4 separate regions of the Homo sapiens genome follow, and regions 1, 3 and 4 are each linked to region 2. The links come from fine-mapping of genetic effects on gene expression. A gene starts in region 2. Each other region holds a variant in brackets. All regions are shown on one strand. Distances are between the middles of the regions.

Region 1 (8,129 bases), 280 kb before region 2:
GTGTGTGTGTGCGCGCGCGCGCGCGCGCGTGCGCGTGCGCGTATGCGTGTGTATGTGTGTGGTGATTTTGTGTTGCCATTGCTATTTAGAGGTTTCACTGAACAACTGATTAAGGTGCCCAGATTCAGAGTAGTAGCTGAAGAGGATTTGGAAGTGTCCCCATCCTGACAGTCTAAAAATAATTTTTATTTTTTTCAGCATGTAAGTTTTAAGTAGGGAGTAAGGAAGATATTTTCTATAATAACTTTTAAGTAATCATTCCTCACAGACTATATTTAGAATTCCATAGTATATCAAATATTATTTTTATTTATTTATTTATTTTTTGAGACGGAGTCTCGCTCTGTCGCCCAGGCTGGAGTGCAGTGGCACAATCTCGGCTCACTGCAAGCTCCGCCTCCAGGGTTGACACCATTCTCCTGCCTCAGCCTCCTGAGTACCTGGGACTACAGGCGCCCACCACCATGCCCAGCTAATTTTCTGTATTTTTAGTAGAGACGGGGTTTCACTGTGTTAGCCCAGATGGTCTCGATCTCTTGACCTCTTGATCTGCCTGCCTTACCCTCCCAAACTGCTGGGATTACAGGCATGAGCCACTGTGCCCAGCCCAAATATTATTTTTAAAGTCAGGATTTTTCGGGGGAGGGGACCACTTGGTTCCTTGGTTCTTGGTGGACTGCAAGAATGTAAAGGGTCATGTAAGGTGAGTAACTTATTCTACAAAGGCACTGGAACATCCAGAAAGCCTAGGTCTTGCCACTCCTCCCTCTGAGGTGCTGGCTCTGGCCCCCAGGCAACACAAAACAGGCAGGAATGACTCCGATAGGGGATGGAAGCTCCTCCAATGTGTCTTCACTGAAGTCAGCTCTGAACTCATGGACTTCTCATGGACAGCAGTGCCTCGATTATGGCTCACTGCGGCCTTTACCTCCCAGGCTCCTCCCACCTCGGTCTCCCAGGTAGCTGGGACCACAGGCATGGGACACCACACCCAGCTATTTTTTTATTTTTTTGTAGCGACAAGGTCTTGCTATGTTGCTAGGCTGGTCTCAAACTCCTGGGCTCTCGAAGTGCTGAGATTACAGGCACAAGCCACTGTACCAGCTTGCAAAAGTCCTTTCAAGATTCTGATGAGCCCTTCTAGGCATTCATTCCATTCATGCTAAAAATCCTCAGGTTAAATAATCACCAGGAGGCACACACAGAAAACCCCACCTGCAGGTCCATGTTAGCAGCTGTGCAAATCTTGAGATCTGAAAAGCTGTAGGTTTTTCATTCTCCCTAGGCTGATCTTTCCTTACTCTCTATATTATTCCAGCCCAGACTGATGCACTGATTATTCTCTTATATTTTCTGTGCCCTTTTTTTTTTTTTAAAGTGTTTGTTCTTAGAAGTCTCCTCACATCTTCTATGGAACAAAGTAAGACACAGATGAATAATACAATGCATGTATTTTTTGTTGTTGTTTAAAACTAAGCACAGCTTTAGGAACGTAAGACAAAGCTGAGCTTCCTTACTAACGTGAACAGACTCATAACAGGCATTGAAATAGACATGCTGGCAATAAAAAGGTGGCAGATAAAGAATTCAGTAAGCAACACAGCCGGAAGGGAAAAAGAGAAAGCCCAACCCACTGACTTGGATTTAATGGAACCAGTCCTCCTATTCCTATTACAATTCCATCTCCATTCCATGCTTTCCCTCTTGTCAATTTCACACCCTGGCTCCACATACATCACTGCCCCAGCCCTTAGTGGTGGACAGAGATATTCACTGCTCCTCTTCCAGCCTTTGCTGATAGAATTTGTAAAACATCAAGTAGCAAAGCAAATTGTTCACAACCTGCGTTCCTTACCATAAAATTTATCTTTAAAGACCAGCAATGTTAGAAGCAGCCCAAGGACTTGTTCAGAATGCCACTGGCTCTAGAGTGGCCATGATATTACTGGCTGTGCTCAGAACAAAGCTGACTTGACCAGAAGCAGCACAGATTTCACTGCAAGCCCTAAGATACTTACAGAACCAACTGGCAATATGGCAGTTTCTGGCAAAGGAGTCAAGGTTTTGAACCTGTATGGTGTTCCCCTCTTAAGTGCTACTAAGAAAACCTATTTGCGATGTTACTTGTAGACACAGATCTGCTTTGGGATTCAGAACAAATAAAAAAGAATCTGGGAAGATTCTTTCTCTCTCCATGGCACAGGAGGGTGAAGGGGAGGGGAGGGGAAGGTGCTGAAGTAGACAAGGTGGAATTCCATGGTTGTTAGCACCGAAGATCAGATGCATAACTTGTAAATGAAAAATGCAAAACGAAAATGCAAGCCCCCGCCCCGTTCAAAAAGCAGGGGGAAGACGCTACAAACAATAATAAAACATAAAAGTTTTTCCTTTCTTCCGTATGCTTTCTCTTGGCTTGTTAAGATGTTTTGTTTTGTTTTGTTTCGAGATGGAGTCTCGCTCTGTCACCCAGGCTGGAGTGCAGTGGCGCGATCTCAGCTCACTGCAACCTCTGCCTCCTGGGTTCAAGTGATTCTCCTGCCTCAGCCTGCTGAGTAGCTGGGATTACAGGCATGTGCCAACAAGCCTGGCTAATTTTTGTATTTTTAGTAGAGACGGGGTTTCACCATGTTGGCCAGTCTGGGCTTGAACTCCTGACCTCAGGTGATCCGCCGCCCTCGGCCTCCAAAAGTGCTGGGATTACAGGCGTAAGGCACCACATCTGGCCGTTAATGTGTTTTTTAATTGCTATTTAATGTTACAATCCCTCAGGCATGGGGATACTTGTAAGTGCAAACCCTTACAAACACTCAGGGCCCTGTCCATATCTTGGTACCTGCACACAGACCATTGGCTTCTGGGTACCCTCTCCCATCAGCTGCTGGACAGATGCACCATGCACTGATCAGGGGCGGGTAAATCAAGCCAGGAACCCTCTCTTCCCATGGCCCCACAATCTCAACCCACAGCAGATGGGTGGCCCATAAATGTATTGCAACATCAGTGTTGGGACATGCTAGGTGCCTGGACTGCGGGTAGGCAAGAGGCTCACCCCCACTGAGTCGCCTGTGGAACACACAGCAGTGTTGCCAGCCCAGACTGGGCTGGTCACCACCACGCTCCAATCCCAAGATACCCAGGGAGTGTGCACTTGACCCCAACCCTCCCGTGCTCACACCCATGTCTCTTCCGCGGTAGAGGGCAGTAGAAGTCTCTACGTAGGGAGGGAGATAGGGAGGTCTGGCAGGGCCTGAGATGCCGGGGGGCCAGAAGGTGAGAACCGCACAGGGACGCTGGGAGGTGGCAGGACTGTGTGCAATCCAAAGCCCAGCCCTCTCATGGACATTCCATTGGACTTGACTTATAAGATACAAATTCAAAGATTAAGAATTTCCTGACAGCAACCTTGAAGCATTCATCCCCACACACAGGGGCCTTCTCATTGTGGGGCCTGTGCAGCTGCACTGGCCACATGCCCAGAAAGCTGGCTCTGTTAGCAACCTACCAGAAGTCCAGAAACAAAATGGACACAAGTTTGCCCCAACTGCCCCCAGTTTTCCATCATAAAACCTAATTATCCAATCTGTGTTTATGACAGGAATGGCAAAGAGATTTCACCTTGCACAGATATGAGGCTGCTCTGGTGGCGGTAGGTGGGAGGGGTCTCACACCCTACCTGTTTAGCTTCCTCTCCCATTGCTTTGCAAGGCAGAGCCTGGTGTATCTTTAAAGACTTCTAAAGCCCACCCATTTGAACAATAATGGTAATTTATTACATTGTGCAAAGAGCTGACGTAGTGAGATACAGGCAGAGTCTTGATGGTTCTAGAAATCCCCCCAAACCTAACTTAGCCTAGGGGTTTTCTTCAAGTGTCAGGGAGATTAGGAAAGAGAAAATTGAGGGATAATTACTTATTAAATGGCTCTGGGTTGATGGTTTGTAAAAACTGGACAATGATCCAAAGTCATTATTTGGATCTAAGAATATAACCTGGTGGCTGAAAGCAAGTCTTTACAAACCTTGGCTTCTGGGTCACTGTTGATACTACAAGAATCATCATCATCAGGGTGTGGGGCATTTCTAGGCAGAAAAACAGAAAAGTGGACTTAGAATTCTATTGCAAACTATCTGCACAAAGCCATACATTGACAGCAGGTCGATCCTACTAATGTCCTACCTGAGTTTCAAAGATGCATAGCGTAGGGTTGCTCCTTCAAACTCTTTTAAACTGGGGTCCGGGTTAACAGTGGCTGCATGCAAATCCTAGAGGAAAATAGAACCTTGTTAATGTACAATGGGGGAGAAGACCATTCATTGCCTCAAATATCAAAGGGGAGAAACGTCTTCCCAGCAAGAGGCAGAGAGTGTACGTGAGCTTAGGCAGAGAAAGGCATGCAAGGACTGTTGAATGCTGACTGGTGCAAACTCCTGTTCTTACAAAACAACGGGGAACCTAGGGCATTCACAATGGGAGACACCAAAAAAAGGCAACAGGAGTGTGAGCTGAATGCCCCTAGCAAGAAGCCCGATCACTGTGTCCCTGCAGAATGCATGATATTCACAAAGAAGAAAAATATACAGCCACAGCCATGCAGAAAGGATAAAATATTAAATGATCTAAGATCTGACAATATACTTGCCTTCCAAATGTCACTATTAATCTTTCCCCCATTCAGAACAGCAAAATCACTCCATGGCTGTTTCTAGACATATAATTATTCACATAGGAAAAAAGCACATTGATTTAAAGAAAAAGAAAAGAAAAGAAAAAAAAAAAACACAAGACACTGTTGTTAGCATTGATATTCACAAGATGGGTTAGGGAACAAGTTAACTCTAACAGCAACTTGTTGGCTCACTCCCTCTATGTCTAGATTATCACCTGAAGACGAGGGCAGG[A/T]GAGTGATGGTGCTTTAATTACTTACCAAATAAATGACTAAACATTATTAGAAGCAGACAGTGAAGTTATTTCCTTAAGGTAATTTTAAAAGCAAACAATATAATTCCAAGTATTCAATAACTAGCATACCTAATTCCATAATAATCATTTTCCTCCCTATAAACCAAACAGAACTGTTTTCTGGTGGTGGGGGTGGAATGAGGGACGGGTACCGTGTTTGTTTGGAAACTAGGGAATGCCCATGGCTGAGGGCCCCAAAAGTTGGGGGTCAAGATATTTTCACTTAAAAGAAAAAAAGGAGAATGATGGGGAGAGAGGGTTAGTGAAGAACACAGACTGACATCAACACTTGGCGGAAATTTAACCTAACAAAAAACAACTCTAAACAGTCTAACATAAATTTCTCTAATTCATAAAAGCTCTACTTTTTTTTTTTTGCTTCAAAAGCTTCTTCACAAATTAATACTTGATCATGAAATGATTTTCTAAACGTAATTATAGTGCAAGGCATGAAGCCTGGCTTTGTTGCGAGAGCTCTTGCAATAACTGATTTCCAAATCTAAACAACTGCTCCATCCACCTCAGACAATGAGAAAATGTCTTTTCTTTCTACTAGGCCTAGTGAATATTCAAGTATTTTTCATCTAAGATTTGGGGAAATAAGCAAGCAAGGCTAATAAAACTCAGGGACAGTCTTGTGAATTGCTTTACTGACTGGTTAGGCAAATCTGTTTGTATAAGAAATCAACCATCAAAACTTTTCAGCTAAATCACTTTTCAACTGAAGTTCTTTGAAAATGAGAAGTGAATAATGACCCATAACTTTTACTCACAACATTGATACAGTTTTAAAAACCACTAAAAGCAGAAAAAAACTAAGCTTAAATGTCTTGTGCGTCGAAAGATGCATTTATTTTGTTTAAAAATTTTTTTGAGACAGGGTCTCACTCTGTCACCCAGGCTGGAGTGCAGTGGCCCAATCACAGCTCACTGTAGCCTTGACCTCCTGGCTCAAGCAATCCTCCTGCCTTGGCCTCCTGAGTAGCTGGGACTATTCAGGTGCATGCTACTACACCTGGCTAATTTTTTAAAACTTTTTTGTTGAGATGGGGGTTCCATTATGCTACCCAGGCTGGTCTTGAACTCCTGAGCTCAAGTGATCCTCCCACTTAGGCCTTCCAAAGTGCTGGGATTACAGGCGTAAGCCATGGCGCCTGGTGCAACATGCACTTACCAAACTCTGCAAGCCTCTCTGAGAGCAAAGACACTTCAAATTTAGACCCATTATTACTATTGCACATGTGGTGTCATTTTCATTTTTGGTCTAGGCACCTAAACTGCAGCTTTTCAAAATAAAATGGGAACTTAGACCACTATATTTACTTTTAAAAAATAATTTCTCTTAATGAATAAAGGGCAGGAATGTTGCCCAATCCCTTACCTTTCCCCTCACTCTACCCCCAGAAGCAGTGTTCAGTCTTTATGAAGAGAAAATTAATAACCTAGGGCAATCTTAACCTGTTAGCTCGGAGGAGCTATGAACCCCTGAAATGGGTGCGGGGTTTTGTACATGTACATTTTCCTGAGAGAAAGATGCCCAATTTTTCTCATATTTCCAGATGGGCCAGTGACCAATTTCGGTTTGGACCACTGTAGGGCTACTAATATGGATGTGAGATGAGGACCTGAAATATCAAGTACAAAATAAAATTTTAAGCTAGAATTTCTTTTTCAAAAAGAAAACAAGCTTATATGGCCTCAAATTGTCATCACTGTTTACATGTGAGCAATATTTGTTGTTAAGTTGAACTTTAAAAAAGGATAATCAGATGATGAATTAGGAAGACCCAAGATAATTGTGTCTTTGTGGAGAAATTTATAAAGAAACAAGAAAAACAAAGTTACCTCACAAAAAGAATTTCAGAAATTATCCCCAAGGGACCCTATATGTTGAGGCTACAGAAAGTAAAAGAAGAGTATTTTCTAAAACAAGTACTCAGAAAAGTCTTCAGTACCTAATTAAAACAGTTCTCTGCGTGTGTGTGGTTTTTAAAATTTTTAATGCATTTACTCTTTGGACATAAGGGTATCTGTAAAGCAAAAGCTAAAAACAGTATTAAGACTGTCAGAATCCAGCTCTCATGTTATGGAAACATGAGTTAGATGGCAAATGTCCAACAATCACCTTTTACAGATTTAAATAAACAAAGGCTCTGTATAGTGATTTTACAAAAACTTAACACGGGCACTCTTAAGGAAATCCTTTAGCACAAAACTCAGTAAGGAAATGGAAACTGGCATTATATGTGTTATGACTGGGCCAAAGATCTTTTTTCCCCTCCTATATTTACAACTATTCATTTACATCAAATATGACAAACTTTCTCCAATGTATAAGTGACCATAATTTTTCTTTTTTAAAAAATTAAAGTCAATGAAAGACAAAGTCACTTTGTCTTAAATTTTAAGAATTACATGGTCTATTCATCTAACTTTTTTAATTAAGAAGAGAGAATATTTTCTATATTTGGCTAATAAGTTTTGCTAATAATTTTTAGTTAACAAATTTTTAAAAAAGCACAACCCAACAGAGATTCTTTGGTTCTACAGAAAGTCTGTATCCACCCCCGTAGGGGTGGGAGAGATGAAGGAGGAAGAGGAGAGACAAAGAGAAAAACATTAAAAGGGGAAAAAGCAAGTTGGACAATATGCCTCAGGTAAGACAAACACAAAGATGGGGAAAGAGGTGGTAACGGACCAACAGGGACCATCTTCTATGAGCAACAAGCTTCCATGAGCCTGGTAACCCTCCAGGCAATGCAGCTAAAGCCTTGCACAGCTGAGTGACATTCTGGTACCACAGTCATAGCTGGGACACCCTCCTGGTGCTTGTCCTGACCTTGTCCAGGCTGCAACCTCCCTTTCTCTGATTACTTGATCCTGCTCAGTTCTGGGAGAGCCTTGGAGCCTTAGCTCCTCAGAGACAGTGTGTCTAGGGGGACTGACCCAATGCCCGGGGTATGGCACTCCTCAAAACCCTTGAGCACCACACGGAAGCTGTGTGAGGCTGGACCCAGTAAGGAGGGAATCCGATCATATAACCTTGACTACTGAGAGTTTTCTTCTTCCATGTTTCTCTTCTGGGGTCTTGGAAAGCAATTCCACATAGCAAACAAAAATGACGCATTATCTTTCAGCTGGAAAAAGGCCAACAATGGAGTTGATTCTTTG
Region 2 (8,129 bases):
TTTGTTACACAGGTAAACATGTGCTATGGTGGTTTGATGCACAGATCAACCCATCACCTAGGTATTAAGCCCAGTATCTATTAGCTATTCTTCCTGATGCTCTCCCTTCCATTTTTCTTAAAAGATAAATTTAGATATCCAGTACTCAGGATAGTCCACACACATCATTATTCTAATATTATGACAAGGCTTTCAGTATTCATTCCTGTGGTAACAGAAAAATAAAAGAATTCAATGTTCATATGCTGTTTTTCTGGTGGCAGGAAAAGAAAACAGTCATCAAAAGGTTGAAACATGACAAAAAGTACCAGTTTAAAAATATTTTATGTTTGTACATGTGGATTCTTACAATATATGCAATAGTTTTTTCCCAAGTAATTTTGGAGTCAGTATTCACATTACTCCAGCTAAGTGTAAACACCAGTATTTTGCACTTTAGCTCATCAAGCTTTCTTTTTTTCAGAAACAGGATCTCACTCTGTTGCCCAGGCTGGAGTGCAGTGGCGTGATCATAGCTCACTACAGCCTCAAACTCCTAGGCTCAAGCAATCCTCCCACCTCACCATCCAGCTTTTCAATTACCACTTTATAAAAATTTCAGAAAGCCAGTTCACATTGGCTCCTTGAAGGTGAATTTATTCAGTTAAAAGTATCCATTAGAAGAGGGAATAAAAGCATAGGACCTAAAAACCTTCTGTGGAAAGGATCTCAACTTTAGAGTCGTCTCTCAAAGGCTCTCAGCAAATATCTAGAGACGTGGTTACATCCAGTTTACGAAGACTGTCGGTGACTTCGGGGTCATACAGTACATGGACAACGAAAGAACAGCAATTGAAATCTTGTACTTGTACCCCACCACCTTCCGCCCTATGATCAACCCACTGTACTCTACTGCCACCTGTGTTCTCTCGGCATTTCCCCAGCCTGGAGGTTTCCCCATTCTCGCCACAAATACCATCCTTCACGAACGATGCCATTTCTAGGATGTTGCAAGTTATGATAAACAACTGTTGAACAAATATTGCTTACAAGCTACAAGTTGAAAACGAGAAGGTTGCTACCTAAGTTCATGAAGAAATCCCCTTTCAAGGATTCCATCTGTTCCTAAAAGGCCAGCCACACAAATTCTAATACTCTGCATTATTATGGCCATTTGGGGACAAGATTTTAAATCTGAAACCATGACAAGAAAAAAAAAAAAAGCAAGATTTAAGAGAGTAAACTCCAGAAACAACAGATCAAACTGCCATTGTGTTTGTTTTTTTTAAATCAGTGAAATATTAAAACAAATGATAAACCCATGCCAACCTCACAAAGTTTCCTCATTCCTTGGAATTCAAACACCACCGATGGCATCATTTTATGATAATCCTTTGGGTATTTCACGTAAGTAATTAGACACAATGTAAAGCCAGTGACTGAGGGACTTAAACAAACTGTCCCCTCCGAGAGCCCAGTTGGAGCTTCCGACACTGACCTTATTCTCCTCTCAATTTTAACCCTCCTCAACCACTCAATCCATCCAAAAACGTCTGTGACAGTCGTGGCTCTAAAACCGCGCAGAACTTGACTACAGAACGGTCGGTGACAACTCCACATATGATTTATCCAAATTAATTTATTTTTTTGAATTCTAGTCCCATGCTCCCTCGGCTGTTTGCCCCGAACCCGTAGTCTACACCACTTCACCGACGTGAAGACCACCTTTCATTGTTTCTATGGGTCTCAGCATCCTTCCCTCCGTCCAGCTCTGTTCTCGCCGCACAAATGTCATTTCTAGCGTACCACCCTCCATTCCGCCCGGTGGGCAGCGCAGGGGCTTTCGGGTCCCAGTGGCCAGTTTCCTGGAGTCGGTCCCCTATGCACAGCCATTTTCTAGTTAAACGCTCTCTCTGCCACCGAGGGGGAAAAGGAACTTTTCCCCCCTTTCATGTCTCATGGGCTGGCCTCTGAACCCCTCGTGGAGAAGCCAACCCCGGCTCCAACTCCCCGGCAGGAGCGCGCTGCCGCCCAGGAGAGACAGCCGAGCGGCACAGCGGAGGCCGGTGCCAGGACAAGGGGGTGTGCGCTCTTCCCGCAGGCGCCCACCCTCACTTTTCCCCTCTGCAGTCCCCACCCGGGCGCACCGCCTCCAACCCGGTCTCCCCCGCCCCAGGCCCTGCCAAGCCGGGGCTGCTGAGGGAAAGAGGGCGCCGGGAAGCGGGAGGGATGGAAGTCAAGGAGAGTGAGCCCGCAGTCGCCGTGCCACTGGCCCTGCGGCGCGGGCGCAGGGCGCACGGGACTCCGCAGCAGGCGCCCCGCTGCAGATGCCGCGGCAGCTGCTGCAGGTGTGGCTGCGGCTGAGCGGGCAGCAGTGGCCGCGGAGCCCCGGGGCCGGGAGCAGAGGAGAAGCCGCCGGGGGAACCCGCAGCCGCTCGCCGCACGCTGCTGCCGCTACCCGGGTGTTTCCCCAGCACTCTCGTGCTGCCCCGGAATCCGGGGCAAAGGCAAGGAAGAAAGCTGGGCTCACCAGTGGTGCGCGCGGCGCTCGCCTCGGCTCCGGCGCCCAGCGGCTCTGCTCCAGTCTCGCCCTTCCCGGAGCGCCCAGATCAGATGCGGTTACAGCGCACTAGCTTCCTACTTGAGACCAGAACGGGCTCCGGCAACTGAGCATGCTCAGTGCCGTTCCGCGAGTCCCGCGCAGGGAGCGGCGCTGACGAGATTCCACTTCTCCAGGCTTTGGCAGCGGCTGCGCGAGGGAAGGCTGGAGGGACCCGGCGGGGAGGGGGCCGAATGGGAGAAAGGCGGGGCCGGGGGGTGGGGGCCGGGCAGAAGGAGGCGGGCCGCGCTCCCAGGGCGACCCCTGCAGGTGGAGGCGGCAGGGCCTGCGGGAGGCACCCTCCCCAATCGCCTGGGAACACGCAGGGAGGCAATGGGTCCCCCAGTAAGACCCAAAGGCAGGACGTGCAGTGCAGCCCGGGTATCCCCTCCGTGTGGCTGGTGTCTGTCTGCACCAAAAGGCAGTTGGGTTACCTTAGCCCTGGCTTTTCTCCCACACGCCAGCATTCCCTTGCAATAGGAAAATGTCCCCACAGGAGAGCTGCCCACACCCACCCAGGCTAACTGCAAGTTGTAGGCGACACCTTCTCCTTCCTTCTACCTCCTATCCCCACCCCCAGGCATATGCCGCACACACACTCTTCTTTGATCCGGAAATCACAAGATAATATCAGGGGAGAGATACAACTGCCGGAGAGGAAAAGGAGGTTTTCCTTTCCATTGCCAATAATATTATCTATAACTCTAATTGTAAGCGTGCAAACAAAGCCCTGATAAGAGTCGAGTCTCAGTAAACGGTAAACCGTGCTCTGCCCCAGACGCTGTGAATGACATCCCCAAAGTATCCTTAGGATTGCTCTTCACCAGGGCAGCGGTTGTCAAACTGGAGCCTGGATCAGAATCGCCTGGAGGGTTTGCTGAAGTACAAATCCCTGAGTCCCAATCTGTGTCTCTGAATGGGTAGATATGTGGTGGGGCCCAAGCATCTGTATATCTAACAAGTTCCCATGGGATGCTGATGCTGCTGGTGTGAGGACTATACACTTTAGAGAACCCTACCCATACACACACACACACACAGTCCTACCAAGGATCTCGAATTAAAAACTCACGTGATTCTTCCTATGAGGACTCTATGCAGTGGGGTGGGCATTACTTTATTCTTTCCTACATGAGTTTATTAAGGATCCACGAGGTCTTGTACTAGGCCTGAGGATAGTGGTGAATTTAAAAGCCCAGGCCCCTGCTTTCATGGAATTTATAGTCCGGCCGGGTGACAGACACCTATCAAATAATCACTCAAAACGGTTATTTCAAACAGGTAGAGTGCTGGGAGGGAAATGCACAAGGTGCGAATAGAGTGTATAGAGGGACCCTCATGCAGACTCAGTGAGGTTGTTACGAAGGGATGGGAGGGGGGCTGCCTTGTGGAAGGTGGTTTCTGACTTTTGCACTCCAATAACCTCTCCAATTAACAATTATCTCCCTCAGACCGAGCTGGAGGCCAGCAATCATGTCCCTCCTTCCTACAACATAAAAACAATACTGTCACAGAGAAATCCCTATAAATTCATGAAAAGTGTTTACTCTTGGGACTGAGTCTCTGCACCCCAAGATCCACCTAACACGTCCGTGGACCAAGGACAGTCGAGGGCCACAGTAGACCTCTTGGGGAAAATACAGGCTCTCTGAACTGGAGAGCCTGTGGTTCTTAGTCTGTGATCTTCAAGGCCAAAGAGGCAAGGAAACCAGCCCAAGACCACCATTCCCGTCAGGAGCGGAGATCGACCAGCCTCCAACCTTGCAGACGGGTCCTCTTTCCAAGGCACTCTATTCCCGGACCTCACAGCTCCCCTCAGATCCCCGGAACCCGGCCTGGCCACCCCGCTCTCTCTCGGGGGTCCGGGGTAGGTGAGCGGAGCCTGCCCCTCCCAGGTCGGTCTCTTCCCGACGGAGAGGAAAACCCGCGGTGGAGTCCGCGGCGGCGGGGGGGGGGGGGGGGGGGGGGGCGGGGCGGCGCGCGCAGGCGCAGAGGCCGCCAGGTTGGGCCGAGGAGGCGCCCTGCTCCACACCTGATGCAATCAGCCTTCCGGAAACGGGTCCCGCTGCCGCGCTCACCCAGGAAACACTTCCGCGCCCTCCTCTGGCCGCTGAGCTCCCGGGGACGGGTTCCCAAACTCCCCCGGCCCGACTTCGCCACGGGCGGTGTTCTGCGCCCCGTCGGGGATACGCCGGAGAAGTCGGGAAGTCACTGCCTGGGCACACAAAATCCCTGAAATGCCCTGACAGTGACGTCGAAACGGCCACCAAGCGTTGCGCAGCTGCAGGAGGAAATTCCCTTAATTATGAATTTACAGAGGGGACTGATCGGGGCCGGAGGGAAGGCTTTGACCCTTCCCTTGCTTCCTTCCTTCGTCCGCCTCCCAACACATTGTCTCTCTCACTGAAAGGAACGTTTAACAGCAGTTTTAAGGCAGTATGGAGAGGAATCTCCATGCCCTCTGTCTTGCTAAATATGTAACAGCACTTTAGCTTTGCTACATAAAGCTTTCCCACCGCGCGCTCATTTTATAAATACGTAATTGGTTTCTGCATACCTCATCATTTCAGTTTACAAAGAAAATCATTTCTCGTTTCACCACTTCATGCAATTTTTATATCTATTGTGAGTGGGTTTTTTTCTTCATGCTGACTCACCCATTAATTGTTTTCCAAGGAAATGAAATATCCAAGAATATTCCAAGAGCATGTTTTTTAAAGCATGGAAGTAAACGCTGTGAACAGTAGATAAAACTGACCTCTCTTAAGTCCCTTAAGGCCAAAGGTCCTCCTAGGGAGTTGGGGGAAGGAGGCAGATCCAAGGAATTTTATTTGGAAGGATACCTCAAGACCATTCTAGAATCAAATCAAGATCAACTCTTAGACTTTACAGATGACATTTACCTCTCTGTGGCCCAGAGAAATAAATGACTTCTTTATTTAGACAAACCAAAGGCAGAACTGGCACTTGAAGCCAGATTTCTCAAAATTCCAATCTAATGGGGAAAAAAAAATGTTTTTTGCACAAACACCGTAGGGAGTGCAATACTATATTACAATGCAGTTTTACAATCCAAAGATTACAAAATACAAAATAGGTGACAACAAAAGGGATCCTATTACTTGTTCCTGTGACGTCATTAGTCTTTAAATAGTCCATGATCAACAAATATCCAGCCACTTCTAAGTGGCATTGAATAGCCAGAGTCTAGGAATTAAATATTTCAATTAAACAGGTATGAGTCAGGTGCAGTGGCCCAAGCCTGTAGTACCAGCTACTGGGGAGGCTGAGGCAAGAGGGTACATGAGGCTGGACGTTCAAAGTTGCAGTAGGATCTTGCCTGTGAATAGCCACTGCACTCCAGCCTGAGCCACACAGCAAGACCTCATCTCAAAACAAAACAAAAAAAACAGTATAACTACAAAACATCAAGAAATCTTCTGTGCCAACATTAAGAACTTCTAGTATTATTATTTGATTGTGTGGTATATGTGCAACGGTTTGAGCTTAAACCAAGGGAATTTTAATGATCACAACAAAATATCACGGTCATGATTTTCTTCTGTAATGATTTTAAATACTTTAACAATTTAGTAATCAAAGTGAAATAAAAAACAACTCAAAACTCATGCCTGCAATAAGATAAAATCTAATTCTTCAAAACTCTGTCTACCTTCTTATCTTGAGGAATGAATTTCTTTTTGGAATGTTCTGACAGAGATCTGGAGGAACACCTTCTATTGAAGCAAAAATAGAGTTGAGTAAATGTCAAAATGCAGAGGTACAAAATACACACTGTCACACGGTACTAGTTTTAGAATAGCTAACTCTTACTGACTATTTAGCATGTGCCAGATACTGGCTAAGCATTTTCCATAGGTTATTTAACTCAATCCTCACAACTACCCTATAAATGAAGCACTATTATTATCCCTATTTTATGGATAGGGAAAGTGAGGCTTGCAAATGTGAAGCAGCTAACTCAAGGCACAAAATATTCATTGGCAGAACTGGGATTTGAACCCAGGCAGTTTTCCTGGAGCTTGAGCTCTTAAATAATACTATGTATGGAAAAATGTAAATACAGAGAAAATGACTATAATGATTCTCAGATAAGAAAGGAGAGGGAGTATTGTACTTACTCTCCTAAAGATAAAACATAGTAAAATAAGTTTGTAGTCCACACTAGGAAAAAACCTTTTGCTAGCTAATAAATTATGGTCCCCAAATATAGGACCAATATTACCCAGAGGTATGAGGCAGATGATCAAATATCGAGTGATTTTTCAGGGGTACCAGCAAGGCCTCTTCTCTGATGAACCCTCTACGCCTGACTGGTTTCTCTAGTCCTAAACCATCCAATATGGCAGTCACTAGCCACATATGCTTATTTAATCTGAAATCACTTAAAATCAGTTAGAATTAACTCTTCGGTTCCTCTTTCATACTAGCCACATTTCAAGTGCTCAGTAGCATATGGCCTAATGACTACTGTATTGGATAATGTAAGTAAAAAGCATTTGCATCACTGCAAAAAATTGTATTCAACAGTGCTGCTCTGGGCCTTAATGTCATTAGGGCAATCCTTTAATCTCTCTTCATACTGCACTATTCCTGGGAGGACCATGTTTCCATGGTCTACCTTCCCATTGAGCTTCAGTCCTATTTTTCCAAACTAAAATTATTATTAGAGTGTAGAAAGGTACAAAGAGGTACAAAGCATAAAGTCCCCTACTATCATGGAAAGAATAGGGGCACTGGAGTAAGACCTTATTTCACATTCCAGCTCTTAGTAGTTGTGTGACCTTGGGCAAGCTACTTTACCTCACTGAATCTCACTTTTCTTATCTGCAAAATGGGCATGTTAATTTTTTCATTATAGGTTTATTTAAGATTAAATAACATATGTAAAGCTTCTGGTAGGCCTCACATAGGATGATTTCCTTCCTTCCACTCCTATTTCAGTTAATGACATTCCCCAATTACTCAGGTTTCTAAACTAGAAATCTCAGTCATCTTCAATTCTTCCTTCCTCCTCAACCACCCGCATTAAATTAATCACCAAGCCCTTTTGCTCCCAACTCAGGAATGCCTGCCTCTCAAATGTGGGCCTGCCTCTCTGTCCTCACTGTCCACTGTCCTCACTGTCTTTTCATGCATATTTCAGAATCCTGCTAACCAACCTTGATGACACCCATCACTCCCAATCCAAGCCCTTTCTTCACACCGCTGCCAGAGTGATCCTTCTAAAAAAAGGTGCTGATGATGTCATTCTTCTCCTTTAAAACCGCTGATGACTTCCAGTTGCTTAAAGATAAAATCTTAACTACTAAACTGAAGGACACATAATCAAACTCCATCACTCCATCACTGCTGCTTGTTTGGTTGGTAATAAAAAGAAAATTAAAAATATAACAACCCTTATTCCATTTCAAAAATATATTTGGATTCCTCTACTACCAACCTCTTTTTTCAGCCACCCCGTCCCCAGCTCATACCTCTCCCTCTACCCAACCCCCACTACACCCACACGCCAGCAACTTATGCCCAT
Region 3 (8,129 bases), 360 kb before region 2:
AAATGTAATTACGGGGCCGGGCGCAGTGGCTCATGCCTGTAATCCCAGCACTAAGGCCGGTGGATCACTTGAGGTCGGGAGCTCAAAACCAGCCTGGCGAACATAGTGAAACCCCGTCTCTACTAAAAATACAAAAAATTAGTGGGGCATGGTGGTGCATGCCTGTAATCCCATCTATTTGGGAGGCTGAGGCAGGAGAATCGCTTGAACCCGGGAGGCGAAGGCTGCAGGGGGCCGAGATCGTGACACTGCACTCCAGCCTGGGTGACAGAGCAAAACTCTGTCTTCAAAAAAAAAAAAAAAAAAAAGTAATTATGAATGGATTCTTATAAACTGGGAACAAAGGTAGAATAATTCCATATAAATTAAGGCTTAAACCCATCTTCTCTTCTTAGTCTGATTCTTTATTTTCATGCCAGAACAAAGAAAAATGCTCAAAGGTCTCATAACCAGTTGAGAATGACAGAAAGGGTACTGAAGGGTGAAAACATCTTGGAAAAATGGCCAAATACACAAGATTGCACTGGATGGATACGTCTGCTCATCTACACTGGAGAACCAAAGAAAAGAAAGTCAAAGTCTTTTTTTTTTTTCTGAGACAGTGTGTTTCTCTGTCACCCAGGCTGGAGGGCAGTGGCGCGATCTCAGCTCACTGCAACCTCCATCTCCCAGGTTCAAGAGATTCTCGTGCCTCAGCCTCCCTAGTAGCTGGAATTACAGGCATGTGCCACCATGCCCAGGTAATTTTTGTATTTTCAGCAGAGACAAGGTTTTGCCACGTTGCCCAGGCTGGTCTTAAACTCCTAGCCTCAAGTGATCCTTTGGGGACACTCGGCCTCCCAAAGTGCTGGGATTACAGCATGAGCCACCGTGTCTGGCTTAAATCAAGGTCTTGATACAACATAAATGTAAAGGGAGTTGTTCCATGGCTTAATAACTTTGTCCTCGAACAGTTATTACTTCTATTAGCATGTATTTTCTACAGACATAAACAACGCATCAAAGAAATCAGGTATGGTCCTAGATCACACCCCTTCCTGCATCTTCTACAGTCAACTTGGCGAGTTCAACCTCCACATTTCCCCCACCCACCTGCTTCTCTTCATGCCCTCTGCCATGTCACTGATCTCTCCTGGACTAGGGCTAGCCAACTGGTCCCTCGTTTTCCACTCCTGTTCCCAATATCTATTCCCTGAGATCTTTCTGTATGAAATAAACTAGATCATGGCATTCCCCTGGTTAACCCTCTTCACGGGCACCTCATGGCAAACCTTTAAGCACTGCCCACAAGCCCTAAAGGATCCTGTCCCCACCCACCTCTTCCAGCACAAACCACTGGCCTCCTCTTCATCCTCAGGCACGTTGAGTGCTCCACTTCCTCAGTGCTTTCCTTCTTTTTTTTTTTGCGATGGAGTTTCGCTCGTTGTCCAGGCTGGAGTGCAATGGCATGATCTCGGCTCACTGCAACCTCCGCCTCCTGGGTTCAAGTGATTCTCCTGCCTCAGCCTCACGAGCAGCTGGGATTACAGGCACGCACCACCATGTCTGGCTAATTTTTTTTTTTTGTATTTTTAGTAGAGACAGGGTTTCACCATGTTGGTCAGGCTGGTTTTGAACTCCTAACCTCAGGTGATCCACCTGCCTCGACCTCCCAAAGTGCTGGGATTACAGATATGAGCCACCACACCCAGCTGTTCCTCAGTGCTTTCTATTCACTCCCTACATGGCTGGCTTCTTCTCAGCCTTCAAGCCCAGCTCAAATGTTGCCTCCTAGGACAGGCTGCCTCCTGATGGCCCCTTTCCCCTCTGAGCTACTCTGTTGCATCACGCTGTTGATGGTCTTCAAGACACTCGGCATAACCTGTATCATCTTGCTTCCTGAATTGTTTTTCCGGCTTATCTCCTGCCTCTTCAAACAGGGACCTCATCTGTCTCAGTCCTTCATGCTGCCTCACAAGGTGCCTGACACATGGATGCTCCTTATCTGCCGAACAGCATATTAACCATTAGACTATAAATATTAAGCACATGGATGGTCAAAATTAAACCCTAAAAGTAGACAATGAAGTATTTTCATCTACATTCATTCATCTGCCCATTCATCAACTGGGTTATTTATGGAGGGCATCCTATACTAGGTACTATGTTAGGGCCCGAGGAATCCAAAAGTCTAAGAACTCCTCAAATATGTCATATTCTGTGTTCAACACAAGCTCTTTAAAAAGACAAGTTACACTACTACTTAGTATGTTTTTCTGTGATCCTAGAGATTTGTGAAAACCTAGATAAGAGGTTATATGCCATCAGTTTACTCCCAAAAACCCATGAAACGTATATGGAGAGTAAATAGGGACACAGTTAAGTCATCTCTTAACACTCGGGAGCCTGGACAGATGTAAAGCTTTGCTCAGCCAGTGGTACAGAATGAAATTCATTTCCTAGGCCTGGCGCGGTGGCTCACGCCTGTAATCCCAGCACTTTGGGAGGCCGAGATGGACAGATAAGCTAATGCCAGGAGTTTAAGACCAGCCTGGCCAACATGGCGAAACCCTGTCTCTACTAAAAATACAAAAAAATTAGCCATGTGTGGTGGCGGGCGCCTGTAATCCCAGCTACTCGGGAGGCTGAGGCAGGAGAATCGCTTGAATCTGGGAGACACAGGTTGCAGTAAGCCAAGATTACGCCACTGCACTCCAGCCTGGGCGATAAGAGCGAAAGTCCATCTCCAAAAAAAAAAAAAAAAAAAGAAGAAAGAAAAAGAAATTCATTTCCTAGGGGGGCTGTCCAAGAGGAAAGCTGTATAGGTGAGACAAGGAGGCTGCATGACTGATAGTTTTGTAACAAACTGGAATTACCCCATTGAAATCAACAATGCCAATGTTCAAACTCTTTAGAACTCAGCTCTGCCCCTCCTTGCAGCTGCAGGCTCCTTTGAGATCAAAGTAAGCAAGTTCAAGATGACCGACTTTAGTGCCCAATGGCCCACTGGTGTGATTAATACTTCCACCCTTGGAGTGCAGATGACCTGAGGCCCCTCGTTGTTTGCGCCTACTGCCACATGCTCAGCTGACCTCCAAGGCGGCCATCAGCAGCAGTATCTTCTTGTCTCACCTTGGTGTCATCCACACTGCTTCCCAGGGATGCTCCAGTGCAGAGAACCTGCAATGGGCCCCACGCCAGCATAGTGTGAGCTCCAAGAAAGGAAGAAGACACCTGTTGTATTTATTATGCCACTTAATCACCAGCACCAATGCCCAGCACATGGCAAGTGTCCAATAAATACTTATTAAATAAATTATCCCCATTGCAGAAAAGCTAGAACTAAACAACGTGGCGGCTGTTAGAAAAGTGTGTTTCTCACATCTGCAAAGTGAGAATGATAAAATGAGGCCAGGCATGGTGGCTCATGCCTGTAATCCCAGCACTTTGGGAGAACCGAGGCAGGTGGATCACCCAAGGTCAGCAGTTCGAGACCAGCCTGGCCAACATGGTGAAATCCCGTCTCTACTCAAAAAAACAGAAATTAGCCGGGTGTGGTGGTGTGCACTTATAGTCCCAGCTACTCAGGAGGCTGAGGCAGGAGAATCACTTGAACCTGGGAGGCAGAGGTTGCAGTGAGCCGAGATTGTGCCACTGCACTACAGGCTGGGTGACAGAGAGGGACTCTGTCTCAAAAAAAAAAACAAAAAAAAGGAAGCAAAAC[G/A]GAAAGTAGGGTTCTTACTGAGCTACAAACCATGACACCTTCTTTGATAATACTGGCTGATGCTTTATGGAAAGTCTTTCCCCTCTTAAGCATTTCATTCACACTCCCTTTTACTTATAACTTTTACAAAATTACAGACCACATTTACAAACACATTCTGCTTCTAACTTCTTAGGAAAGGCCTCAGGACACTTAATAATTCCTTTCTGAACTCAACTAACTAAAAGGCAGCAGCAAGGATCTGAACTTTAGAGAGAATCTTACAAACTACTCTTGTGTAAGAGCTCGGCTGGAGGAAGGGCCAACTGCTCAATGGCCTAAGAAAACCTAAAAGAGAACAGCATGAGGAAAGCAGGCAGAACCCCCATTCATGATACAAGTCAAAGCCAGGCTGCAGCTGCAGTTATAAAAAGAAAGAAAAAGACTAATGGGATTGCCCCCTCCTTCCGCCTTCTCCCACCCAAGGCAGTAATGAAGATTCACAGCTACACATTAATTAGGAATCCATAGACGTGCCTGGTTACAATATTGGTATAGGGAAACAGATAATAGAAAAGGCACAGATTCCCCCACAAGCTAATAGAGTGTTGTAAGCAATATTTAAATCTTCACGCCTTTCTTTTCAAAAACACTACTTCTTTCTCAATGCCAAGAGCTGGCTGCGTTTCTACATTTGGGGAATTTGAGATATTTTCTCGCATGGAAGTCACACCAATATCCTAAATCGTGTAACTAAAATCATTTGGAAATGCACAGTTTTTCTACACGAAAGGATATTGCTTTTAATCCAAATACTGGATTACCAAAACCCTGAAATATCTTTCAGTCCTAATGTAGACAGGAAGACAGAAATGTGGCCTCACCAGGGGGCACGTGAGGCGAAGGCAGTCACTGCCTCAATCATAGAACGCTGTCCACGGCAGAAATGCCCCGTGCAGACCCCATCAATGAATAGCCCACCCCGAACAGTCCTGCTGCACTGGCGAATTGGGGGTCCAAGGACGCCTCCCCCCCATTTCATACAAGCCTCACTCCTTCTTCCCACCGGCGGGGCAGAAAGCCCCCTCTTCAGCCCTTCCAGCCGTCCAGGACCAGGCAACTCGCTAAGCGCTGACTCGGGGAAGGGAGGGCGCAGCCTTTGTCCCGCAGGTCTCCCGCGCCCGCCTCGCTGTCCCCGCGAGCGAGCTTGGGCTCGACCCCCGTTCCCCCTGAACGCACCTGCAAACAAAGGAGAGCCGTTCCTTCGCCAACTTCCTCACCTTTGCCTCCCGGTCCTTCCGAAGTCGGGCGGGGATGCCGCCCCAGGTGCTACGACAAGCCCCAGGGTGCCGGCACCAGCCAGCGGTGCCGTCGCTCAAGCAGCCGCGCGCACTGCCCCGGGCTCAAGTTGAAGAGAGCGGCGCCCGCGCCTCCCTGCGCCCTCCCTGCCCCGCCCGCCGCGGCCGCCCATTGGCTGCTGGGGAGGCGCGTGGCCCCGCCCCACCCGGCCGCACTCCCGTGAAGTGCTCCCGCTAGGTGCTCCCGCCAGATGCTCCAGCTGCTAGGGGACTGGCTCAGGGCCGGCAAGGAGGATCCCCCACCCCAACATACTCCCTTCCTGTAACGAACGTTTCCTTTTTGGACTCTCAAGACTTAGAAACTTCATTCAAACCCACTGAACCTCTTTAGAAAAAGTTGATGCTCTAGGCCTGCTGGGTTTCTGGTTTCTTTTCTTTTCTTCTTGAGACAGAGTCTCGCTCTGTCGCCCAGGCTGGAGTGCAGTGACACGATCTCGGCTCACTGCAACCTCCGCTTCCCAGGTTCAAGCGATTCTCCTGCCTCAGCCTCCCTAGCAGCTGGGATTACAGGCGCCCGCCACCATGCCTGGCTAATTTTTCCTATTTAGTAGAGATGGGGTTTCACCATGTTGGCCAGGCTGGTCTCAAACTCCTGGCCTCAAGTGAGCCGCCCGCCTCGGCCTCCCAAAGTGCTGGGATTACAGGGGTGAGCCACCGCACCAGGCTGGGTTTCTACGATCCTGATTGTGGGGCGAGTGGGGGAAATGGGGGGCGGGGAGGGGTGGTTGGGGAAGGGAGGTATTGCAGCCCACAGCCAGAAAGCCTTTGGGCAGAAAGACAGAAACCAAATTGTAGTTTTATAAATCTGAATAATCAGATTTCAAGAGGCAGAAAATTCTGAATCGAGCTGGAAAGTGTTTACAGATCATCTGCCAATTTACACAAAGCACTTAGCAGTACACCCCTACACCCTTTTGTAATCCCTACCTCTTTTAAGACACCTTTTGTTTATAGCTGACTTGAAGCCAAGATCCCACAGGCACCCCAACATTGTCATCTCTAGCTGAGCGCCCCTCCCCCCATATACATGGAAGCAGAAAATGTCCAATTGGCTAAGTGACAGCACTTTCAGCACTTTAAGTAAGAGTCCTGGCTAGCCACTAGTCATATAAATATATGAGTTGGAAAGGAAAATCCAAGGTCTCTCACTGACTGTATTCTGTGAGCACTGAAAGTACTTCCTCTTTCTAATTGTTTCTGGGCAAGCGTAAGTTATTTGATTAGCCAATTAACAAAGTGAAATAGGGAGGCTGAGGCAGGAGAATTGCTTGAACCTGGGAGGTGGAGGTTGCAGTGAGCCAAGATCGCGCCACTGCACTCCAGCCTGAGTGACAGAGTGAGAGTCCGTCTCAAAAAAAAAAAAAAAAAAAAAAAAGAGCAAAATAGGCAAAGCATATTAGCCATGTTTTTGGCTATATTCAAAGTCTCATACGCTCCTTTTACAAAGAAAGGAACAGAAAATAGGAAATACACATGGAAAATCAAGGGAGTATTTAACTATAGGTCTTGTTTGGGTTTGGTAAAACACACCACAGGTGTACAGACAACTTTAATGTTCATGTTTAAATGAGGATCAGGTGTTTTCTCATTTGTTCAACATTTACTAAGCTCCTCCTAAGTACCAGGTTCTGTGCAGAAAATTTTATATTATGCTTTTCTAGTTAACAGTTGTCTTTCTAGGGAGGGCAAGATTTAACTCATGCTGTTTCTGAATCTACGATCAGTAACACTTCAATTATTTGGAAGAGTTATTGACAGTAAACTGCTTTGGCAACCACAACTGTCTGGAACACAACACAAACTGCAAGTGAGGCTAGAAGAGGGTTTAAGACTTGGGGTTCAGCAGCCAGAACAGACAGCAGCAAGCTCAGAGATATGAAACAAGTTAACAGGATTGTACCTGTCACCCCTTCAAAGGCTGCCTCTCCTTCCTTACACATCATTCCAGTGAGTTTGGTTGTCTGATTCTCTGTCTATAGCAGGGCAGAAGCAACAAATAGATGGGTCTGCCAGATGTCCACAGGGTACGTCAAGTGTGACAGCTGAGGGTCTGCTGGCAGGAAGTCATGTGTGACAAGTCCTGCCAACTCTGCCTCCTCCTGCTCTCTCCAACTTGCCCCCTTCTCTCAACTCCATGCTGCCACCCTAGTTCCAGCCAACATCTCATCAGGAGGGCTGCTGTCATTTTTTTTTTTTTTTTGAGACAGTGTCTCACTAGTGCAGTGGCCGCTATCTTGGCTCACTGCAACCTCCTCCTCTTGGGTTCAAGTGATCCTCATGCTTCAGAGATGGGGTTTTGCCATGTTGGCCAGGCTGGTCTTGAATTCCTGGCCTCAAGTAATCTGCCCACCTCAGCCTCCCAAAGTGCTGGGATTAGAGGCATGAGCCACCGCACCCGGCCTGCAGTAGTGTTTTAACAGTCTCCTTGCCTCCACTCATCTCTAACAAGCTGTTCTCACAGGAGCCACACCTGTCCCTTCAAAACAAAAACAAAAATCACAAATGCGAGTCCCTTCAAAAACGAAAATCACAAATATGAGTATCCATGCTCGAACCTTAAAACCACACAGTGGCTTCCCACTGCAATGCAGATAAAGTCTATAATCGCTTTCAGGGTCTCACAGGCCGCCTGGGATCAGGTCCCTGCTTCTATCTCCAATGCTGCAACCACATTCCCTCCTCTTTGTCTCTGCTCCAGTCCCCTTTTCTTCTTCCAGTTCCTGGAACACGCCCAGCTACTTCCCACCTCAGAGCCTTTGCACTGACTGTGACCCTCCTAGAATGCTCTTCCCTGCACTGCTCACCTGATGAATCCCTCTCATCTTCTAGGAATCTCAGCCCAAAAGTTGATTCCTTTGGAAGATGTTCCTGACAGGCAGTGTCCTCCCTGACAGCATCCCAGGCTTTTCCTTCGTACTCCTGCTGCAGCTTGGTGTTAAATATTTGGAAAATCATCCATTTATTATTCATCTCCTTCACTTTACAGTGAGCTTTATAAACTTACAGAGTCTGGTTTTGTTTCTGTACAGTGAAGAATTCAACCTTGGCTGAAGAGAGCCTCTGCCTTCAGCTTCTGGGAGGTAAACTCT
Region 4 (8,129 bases), 73 kb before region 2:
GGAAGTATTAGACTTGTACCCTGAAAGCAATATAACACTGTTGAAAGATATTAAAGAAAACTGAAAGAAATGGAAACATGTCCCATGTTCACGTATCAGAGCTCTTAATATTGATCTGCAAGTCAACATAAGAGCTCTTAATATTGAACTAGAAAGTCAACATAATCTCTTATCAAAAGGCTGGCTCAACATTCAAGTATCAGTATCATCCAACCTATGAATAAGTTAAAGAAGAAAATCATGACCATATCAATAGTTGCAAAAAAGCACCCAACAAAAATCCAACACTATTTCATAATAAAAACTCTCAGCAACTAGAAATAGAGGGGAAATTTGTCAACTTGATAAAGAACATTCACAAAAAACCTAAAACTGACATCATATTTAATGGTGAGAAACTCAAATGAGTAAAAAACTTATCCACATATCTATATAAAAACCTGCAAATTAATGTTTCCAGCAGTATTGTTCGTAACTGCCAAAACTTGGAAGCAACCAAGATGTCCTTCAATAGGTGAATGGATAAAGTGTGGAACAACGATATAATGGAATATTATTCAGTGCTTTAAAAAAAATGAACTATCAATTCATGAAAAGACATGGAGGAAACTTAAACGCACATTGGTAAGTGAAAAAGCCAATCTGAAAAGTCTATCTATTGTATAATTCTAACTATATGACACTGTGGAAAAAGTAGAACTATGGGGCAAAAGATAAGTAGTGGCCAGGGGTTCAGGAAGAAGAAATGAACAGGTAGAACATGCAATTCTTTTAGGGCAGTGAAACTATTTTGTATGATACTGTAATGGAAATACAACTTATATATTTATGAAAGCTCATAGAACATACAACGCAAAGAGTGAACCTAATATAAACTATAGATTTTAGTAATGATAATGTATCAATATTGGCTCATCAATTATAATATACCACACTAATGCAAGACACTAATGATATAGGAAACTGGCAGTAGAAGTCACATGGAAACTTTCTGTACTTGCTGCAAAATTTCCCCCAAAAAACAGTGTAATTACAAAATATAATATTAATGAAAACTCTATCATTAAAAAGAGGAAATAAGTCTTTAAATTCATTTAATTCTCCTTAAAACAGAAAGCTGACTGAGGTTCTGGTGAGAACAGCAGCTGTTACCTTGTCGTGTTAAAACTAACTCCAGACAGCTTTCTGATAGCCTCTCATTTGGCTAGGCCTTAAACAATTGTATTCAGAGTAAATAAACAAGATTCTACCATTACTAACCTCTGAAATTATCTTCATTATCTGCAATTTACTTTAACTATATGCTCTGGAAAGCCTTCCCTTCTTTTAGACTCAAAAAGCAAGTAATTGAATTAAATCTATTTTTTAAATCTTTTTAATGTTTTTTAATGTTCCTAAGACTTAATCCTCTTCTACCTTGTTAAATAATCGCCCTCCCTGCTAGTCTACCACCCAACAGAATTCCTAATTCCATCTCTGTTCCCACAAAACTTTGTTCTTACCTCTAGAGATACATTGTCACACTGCATGTCAGTCATGTGAATACTTATCTGGCCTATCCCCTACACCAGGGGCCCCTGGTACCAGTCTGTGGCCTGTTAGGAACCAGGCTGCATAGCAGGAGGTGAGCAGTGGGCTAATGAGCACAGCTTCATTTGTATTTACAGCCGGTCTCCATCGCTCACGTTACCTCCTGGGCTCTGCCCCCTGACAGATCAGTGGCAGCATTAGATTCTCATAGGAACGCAAATGCTATTGTGAACTGCACGTGCCAGGGATCTAGGTTGCATGCTTCCTATGAGAATGTAATGCCTCATGATCTGCCACTGTCTCCCATCATCCCCAGATGGGACCACCTAGTTGCAGGAACACAAGCTCAGGGCTCCCACTGATTCTACATTACAATGAGTTGCAAAATTATTTCATTATAGACCACAATGTAGTAATAATAATAGAAATAAAGTGTACAATAAATGTAACGTGCTTAGATCATCCTGAAACCATCCCTGCCACCCCACTCACTGTTTGGAAAAACTGTCTTCCACAAAACTAGTCCCTCATACCAAACAGGTTGGGGACTGCTGCCCTACACCATGAGCCCCTAAAGACAGGGACTATGCCACAGTCATTTTACACTAAGACCTCACTCCTAGAAGGTACCACCAATTGGGATGTTTTGGATGTAAGAGACAGACACCTAACTCAGATGAACTAGCTAAGTTGCCAAGAAAGTGAAACAGGAGATGCTGGGTTTAGGCACTGCTGAATTGCAGGTCAAAAATATGTGTGTGTCTGTGTGTGTGTGTGTGTCTGTGTGTGTGTGTGTCTGTGTGTCTGTGTGCACACGCGCATGTGTGCGTGTGCATGTGTGCATATGCATACGAGTGTCCCTTCCCTTCCCACCAATCTCTTTTCCTCCATCTCCCTGCTTTGATTTATCCTGTGTTGTCTTAATTTTCAGTAAGGTTTTCCCTAAGTCATAGAAAAACTGCCACTAGCAGCTCCAGCTTAACAAACTCACAGAAGGCAAAACTTCTTCAATAGTTGCAATAAGAATACTATGGCCCCTCCAAAGATGGTTGTGACCCTTTAGTCCATTTTCATGCTGTACCTGAGACTGGGCAGTTTACAAAAGAAAGAGGTTTAATGGACTTAAGTTCCATGTGGCTGGGGAAGCCTCACAATCATGGTGGAAGGCAAGGAGGAGCTAGTCATGTCTTGCATGGATGCCAGCAGGCAAAAAAAGACAGAGCTTGCGCAGAGAAACTCCTGTTTTTAAAACCAACAGATCTCATAAGACTCATTACCTATCACAAGAACGGCACAGGAAAACCCCACCCCCATAATTCAATCACCTCCCACCAGGATCCTCCCATGACATGTGGGAATTATGAGAGTTACAATTCAAGATGAGATTTGGGTGGGGACACAGCCAAACCATATCACTGGCCACGCTTATGTTACATGCCCATAACTGAGTCAGCAGGGTCACCTCCTCTAACTACATAGGGTGAAAATGAAACAAGGGCAATTGTCCAGGAAAAATCTGGATGATTTATTAAAAGATGGAGGAAAAGGATGCTGGGCAGACAAAGCCAACAGACATTCACTACTTCACAGATTCTGAAAGACTGTGACTCACTACTTTCTAGGGAGTATTTATTAGCTGCTTATGTAGAAAGCTGACTTACCCACTGAATGTCCAACAGAAATGGTCTGCAATGTCTGTCCCTGTATAATATATGTTTTCAAAATGAATTATTTCACTTTACTGCCTCATATGGGGTTATCCATGCTGTTTCATTCACCTGGCCCACAGTGAGAGCATTTGGCATTTATTTAAACACCTATGTTTTTCAGGACATTCTCTTCCCCTGTCGTATATAAGTATCTTAATGCCAAATGCACACACTGCAGAAAATGAAATGTGTTGGTGGCTTTTGTTTGGGGAAAGATTAGAGTATATAAAATCTGGCCAAGCAGACTGGAGGCTCACAGCCAGAATTATCCCAACAGAAATGGCAGGTCTCCATGCCCCACCCTTCAAAGTTCGAAAACACAAATGAGTGCAAGTCTTTGAAACTACAAATCCAACTCCATGAGGCTGGACGCCGCTTTCTCCCCAAAATAAAGCCAAGACCATTGAAGTTGGCATAGGTGGCTTCCAGTTGTGGCTTCTTCCAATATTTGTGCCAACGTCCTTCTCTCTTCTCTGAGAGAGGAGAGGAAGATGAGAAAGAGGATAGGACAGAGGAGAGGAAAAGGAAGAGAAGGAAAGGAAGACATCATTACACTATACACAAAAGGCTATCAGCATGTATCTGCCATTTACACATGCTGGGACTCTCACAAATAACTGAAAATAATCATTTGGGGTGGTCTCCAAAATGAGCCTGGAAGGAACAAAACAACTTTTCCCTATCCGGCCCAATCCGCTTTATCCA[G/T]CCTCTCTTACTTATACTAACCTGATTTTGCTTAAATTATTGTCAGCCTCAGCTTTTCACAGGAGCTTTCTTTTATGGATTTTCCATCCAGCAAATGTTTCTGTTCCACGGCTGGGCAGATCCGACCACAGCATGCTTGGCTACAGACCACAGCAGCTCACCCACAGCAACTCCAACCTGGGGGGGCAAAGGCCAGAAGCCATTATAAGGACTCAAAGTCATCAACTTTCTCTCTCTCAAGGGCACATATTTGGCAGGATAACCTCAAACATGTTCCCAACGTTCAAAATCATTATAAACAGAGGCAACAGCTTACAAGGTATCCTAAAGACAAGTGTGGGCTATTCTGAGGGGAGGATTGAAATATTTAATCATTTATTGAAAAGGTTTGGCCTAGTGATTATGCTCTGTTTGTGGGAAACTGAAAAGCCAGATGTTTTAATTAACCATGGAAAACACAAGCTACAACTAAAATTTCATGAACATACTGATCTGCCCCGTGGAAAACCACAGGAATGTTCTGGCAGGGCTCAGTCTGAATTCTTGGGACACAGAGGGCTGGAATCATTCCCCTTAGGAACTGAAACAGAAAATTAACTTGCTCAATATGCTTTAAAAAGTAAAGCGAAACCCAGATTTAATCTCAAATATAAAACATTACAGGACTTCAAAGGGCACCACAAAAAGACACATAAGTGGGGGCTATAAAAAATTCTAATGCGGTTCAGGATTTAGAATATATTTACATTGCAATATGAATGGTGTAATAGAAAATTTTATAGGCTACATAATCCAAAGGGGAAACGAATAATCTTTCATTTCCTAATAGAGGAAATTATATATGAAACCAACATTCAACAAGTAAATCATAAATATTATCAAACGTATAACATAACTGGGCAAAAGGAATCCCTTAACTATCCTGCTGCCAAACATGTGGCCTAGCCCACAGGCGCTGCCATGCTTTAGCTAGAGGAATCAGGGCTTAAGGAAAAACAGTGTGGAAATAACTTATGCTCACTGGTGGTGCAGCTAGCAATTCTGGCACAGAAAACTCAATGAGGGAATCTTATGAAAGCAATTAGTGAACATTAAGAGCTAATAGATTAAGAAGTCTTCATTTGTTAATTATAGTAACAGTTATGACGACATCTGTATATGCCAAATATTGAAAGTCTATTCAAGAGGGGACAGGACAAATGTTATTTTCAGATACTGGGTCCACAGTTCTATTTCTGTAAATCAAAACAGTCCTCGTCACAAGTGTGCTAAGCATAACATTACATTAATCTCTACCTTCAGTTGAAACCTCAGTCCCAAAAATCATCTCGAAAGGAACAGCAGAAAAAAAGCAAAATATCAAGTTATATATGTATGGTATGATCCCAATTTTGTTCTACAAACTGAGTGCATATAATCTAAAGACACCTAAGTATGAACAACAGCACTTTTGGGTTATGGAATGGAAAGCTATTTGTATTTTCTTTCTAGTATTTTCCAAATTTTCTACAATTAACATGTATTTTAAGAGAATTTTTAAATAAGGGGTTTAAGACTGCAGGAATACAAATCAGAAATGGGGTATCTATGCTATATTAGCCTGATCTTCGGTCTGCCTCTTATCTGAACAGAGCTAACAAATGAAGAAGTATTTATCTGATCACAGAAGTTCTTAATTTACACGTTCAAAACCCAAGTGTCCAGTAACACTTCCAGTGATGAACAACACTTTCCTAGAAATAAAAAATTCTTTTTTACTCTGCAAACTTGCCACAGACAGAGAACCATAGTTGTTTCCCTCCCTCACCTATCGCATCCAAATTTCTCTATCACTGGCCATGCCATAAAACTGTCACTAAGTTAAAAGAACGGGCTGGGCATGGTGGCTTATGGCCTGTAATCCCAGCAATTTGGGAGGCTAAGGCCAGAGGATCACTTGAGCCCAGACGTTCAAGACCAGCCTGGGCAACAAAGAGAGGCCTTGTCTCTACAAAAATTTAAAAAATTAGCCGGGCATGTTGGGACATGCCTGTGGGCCCAGCTATTTAGGAGGCTGAGGTGGGAAGGTCACTACAGCCTGGGAAGTCGGGGCTGCAGTGAGCCATGTTCACGTCACTATACTCCAGTCTGGGAGACAGAGTGAGACCTTGTTTCAAATACACAAATAAATTAAATAAATAAAAGAATGCCTCCTGGTGTTACCTACTCACAGGAGCAGGGCCCTTAATGACTCCTGGCACACTCATTTCTGATGCTCTTGGCATCCTGAAAAACACAAGACACAATGGTGGAATCTTTACACTGGGGCCTTGGCAACCCATTGCTCTAATAAGCCCGTGCCCAGAGAGGTAAAATGTCTTTCCCTCAGCCACACAGCCAGCAAAGCAGGAATGAGAGTCCAGACCATTTGCCTCCACTTTGACCAAGTGCTCTTTCCACCACTATGACATTTCAGCATGAACTCTTGGAAATAAACTTTGTACAAATCACGTGCAGGTATTAAATTCATACCAGCAAAACCAGAAGAAGAAGACAGAAATTTATTCTACCAAAAATGAAACGCATGCAGGAGAAAAAGTGAAGACTCAATCCTAGGCTAAAAAAGACACAGCTCTGCCTAGAACATGTTCAACTGAAGAAACAATGAGTGCACTGTGCTTGGGCAGCAGGTGTCCTGAACAGAAACTGCCTATCACACCGAAAGCTTTCTGGTCCTAGCACTGGCCCTGTTGATAACACTACAGTCCCACTGTTCAAAGAAGAACAAAAGGCTTTCAACAAGATAAAACTACACTTGCACCAAGCCACCTGTGAGAGACAGGAAAGATGCATGCACCAGTGTTAGAAATAATAAATGTCTGAAGGCATCAAGTCTGGCCTCTTACTTCCAAAATGACCCAAGTCTTAAGGGAAAGACATTAGTGGTTTCAAAAATTAAGAGATGCCAGGCACGGTGACTCATACTTGTAATCCTAGCACTTTGGGAGGCCAAGACAAGTGGATTGCTTGAGCCCAGGAGTTCGAGACCAGCCTGGGCAACATAGTGAGACCCTATCTCTACAAAAAATTTTAAATATTTATCCAACATGGTGACTCATGCCTGTAATCCTAGCACTCTGGGAGGCTGAAGCAGGCAGATAACTTGAGGCCAGGAGTTCAAGACCAGCCTGGCCAACATGCCAAAACCCTTTCACTTCTAAAAATACATAAATTAGCAAGGCATGGTGGCACACGCCTCTAATTCCAGCTACTCAGGTGGCTGAGGCAGGAGGATCACTTGAACCCAGGAGGAGGAGATTACAGTGAGCTAAGATAGCAGCACTGTACTCCAGCCTGGGCAACAGAGTAAGACTGTCTCAAAAAAAAAAAAAAAAAAAAAAAAACCCGGGCATGATGGCACATGCCTGTGGTCCAGCTATTCAGAAGGCTGAAGTGGGAGGATTGCTTGATCCTGGGCGGTTGAGGCTGCAGTGAGCTGAGGTCTCACCACTGCACTCCAGCCTGGGCAAGAGAACAAGACCCCGTCTCAGAAAAAAAAGAAATAAAGAAAACAATACAGTCACTAATAATTAAAATAATCCTAATCCTTCATCGCTTATGTCCACACAGCCTTGGAGTAAGAGCAGGCTTTTTTCTCTCTTCTTCAAGATTATTTCTTTGAAACATTGTTTACTTCCACTTTTTGTGTTACATCTACCTATGGTATCCACGCCACACCAATCAGAAACCCAGGAGTCTCACAAAATGGGAATAGTCTGAAAAGCCAGGGGAGAGAGGAGGACAGGTGGCAATGACAAACTCAGAAACAATCCCTGAAAGGTCTTTACTGAGCTCCCTTCTCGTCATCCTTTCCCGACTGTGCATCAGGGCAACAAAGGCATGAACTGTGAGGCTGCGCATAAAGCCGCGGCCCGGGCTGATGTGATCTGGCTTTGCGAGAGCCCGAACAAACACAATGGCTCTGTCCCGCCTCAACTGAGAAGTCAGGCGCTGGGTGAAAAAAGAAAATGCTTTTTCTCCACCCAAAACCACTTCTCAAACCCCTACCATATATTCCCGTGACGGATCCTGAAGGCAACACAATGTCAGCAGTTTATTTATTCCCTTTGATGCCTCAGTTCTAACAGTAAACATTAATGTCTGCAGCAGGCAAACGGAATCAGGGTCTTGTTGGTATTTCACAAT

Direction of the effects. Alleles are on the strand shown, and positions count from the first base shown. SD is a standard deviation of normalised expression in the study named. Not every link is listed here.
For the expression in thyroid of the gene that starts at base 2,647 in region 2, allele T in region 4 goes with a higher level than allele G (small effect, 0.32 SD a copy in GTEx).

Evidence for each region.
Region 1: its variant is fine-mapped to the expression of APBB2 in sun-exposed skin (GTEx, PIP 0.96).
Region 3: its variant is fine-mapped to the expression of APBB2 in whole blood (TOPMed, PIP 0.96).
Region 4: its variant is fine-mapped to the expression of APBB2 in thyroid (GTEx, PIP above 0.99).

Annotation. Positions count from the first base shown.
Region 1 is chr4:40,930,439-40,938,567 of GRCh38, forward strand. APBB2 (amyloid beta precursor protein binding family B member 2) reads right to left here. Exons shown (of 18, transcript NM_004307.2): 8 at 4,639-4,701; 9 at 4,176-4,261; 10 at 4,018-4,078. Among named protein-coding and RNA genes, the nearest start is that of NSUN7, 180 kb to the left of the region's middle. The variant A/T (reference allele first, on the strand shown) is at 4,898.
Region 2 is chr4:41,211,896-41,220,024 of GRCh38, forward strand. APBB2 (amyloid beta precursor protein binding family B member 2) reads right to left here and starts at 2,647. Exons shown (of 18, transcript NM_004307.2): 1 at 2,510-2,647. RefSeq lists enhancers at 940-1,019, 4,587-5,401, 4,709-4,958 and silencers at 2,022-2,331, 2,742-2,911, 4,529-4,578.
Region 3 is chr4:40,852,064-40,860,192 of GRCh38, forward strand. The region is part of intron 12 of APBB2 (amyloid beta precursor protein binding family B member 2); the gene reads right to left. Among named protein-coding and RNA genes, the nearest start is that of NSUN7, 110 kb to the left of the region's middle. RefSeq lists a silencer at 5,057-5,256. The variant G/A (reference allele first, on the strand shown) is at 3,704.
Region 4 is chr4:41,139,022-41,147,150 of GRCh38, forward strand. APBB2 (amyloid beta precursor protein binding family B member 2) reads right to left here. Exons shown (of 18, transcript NM_004307.2): 2 at 3,966-4,121. Among named protein-coding and RNA genes, the nearest start is that of APBB2, 71 kb to the right of the region's middle. The variant G/T (reference allele first, on the strand shown) is at 3,945.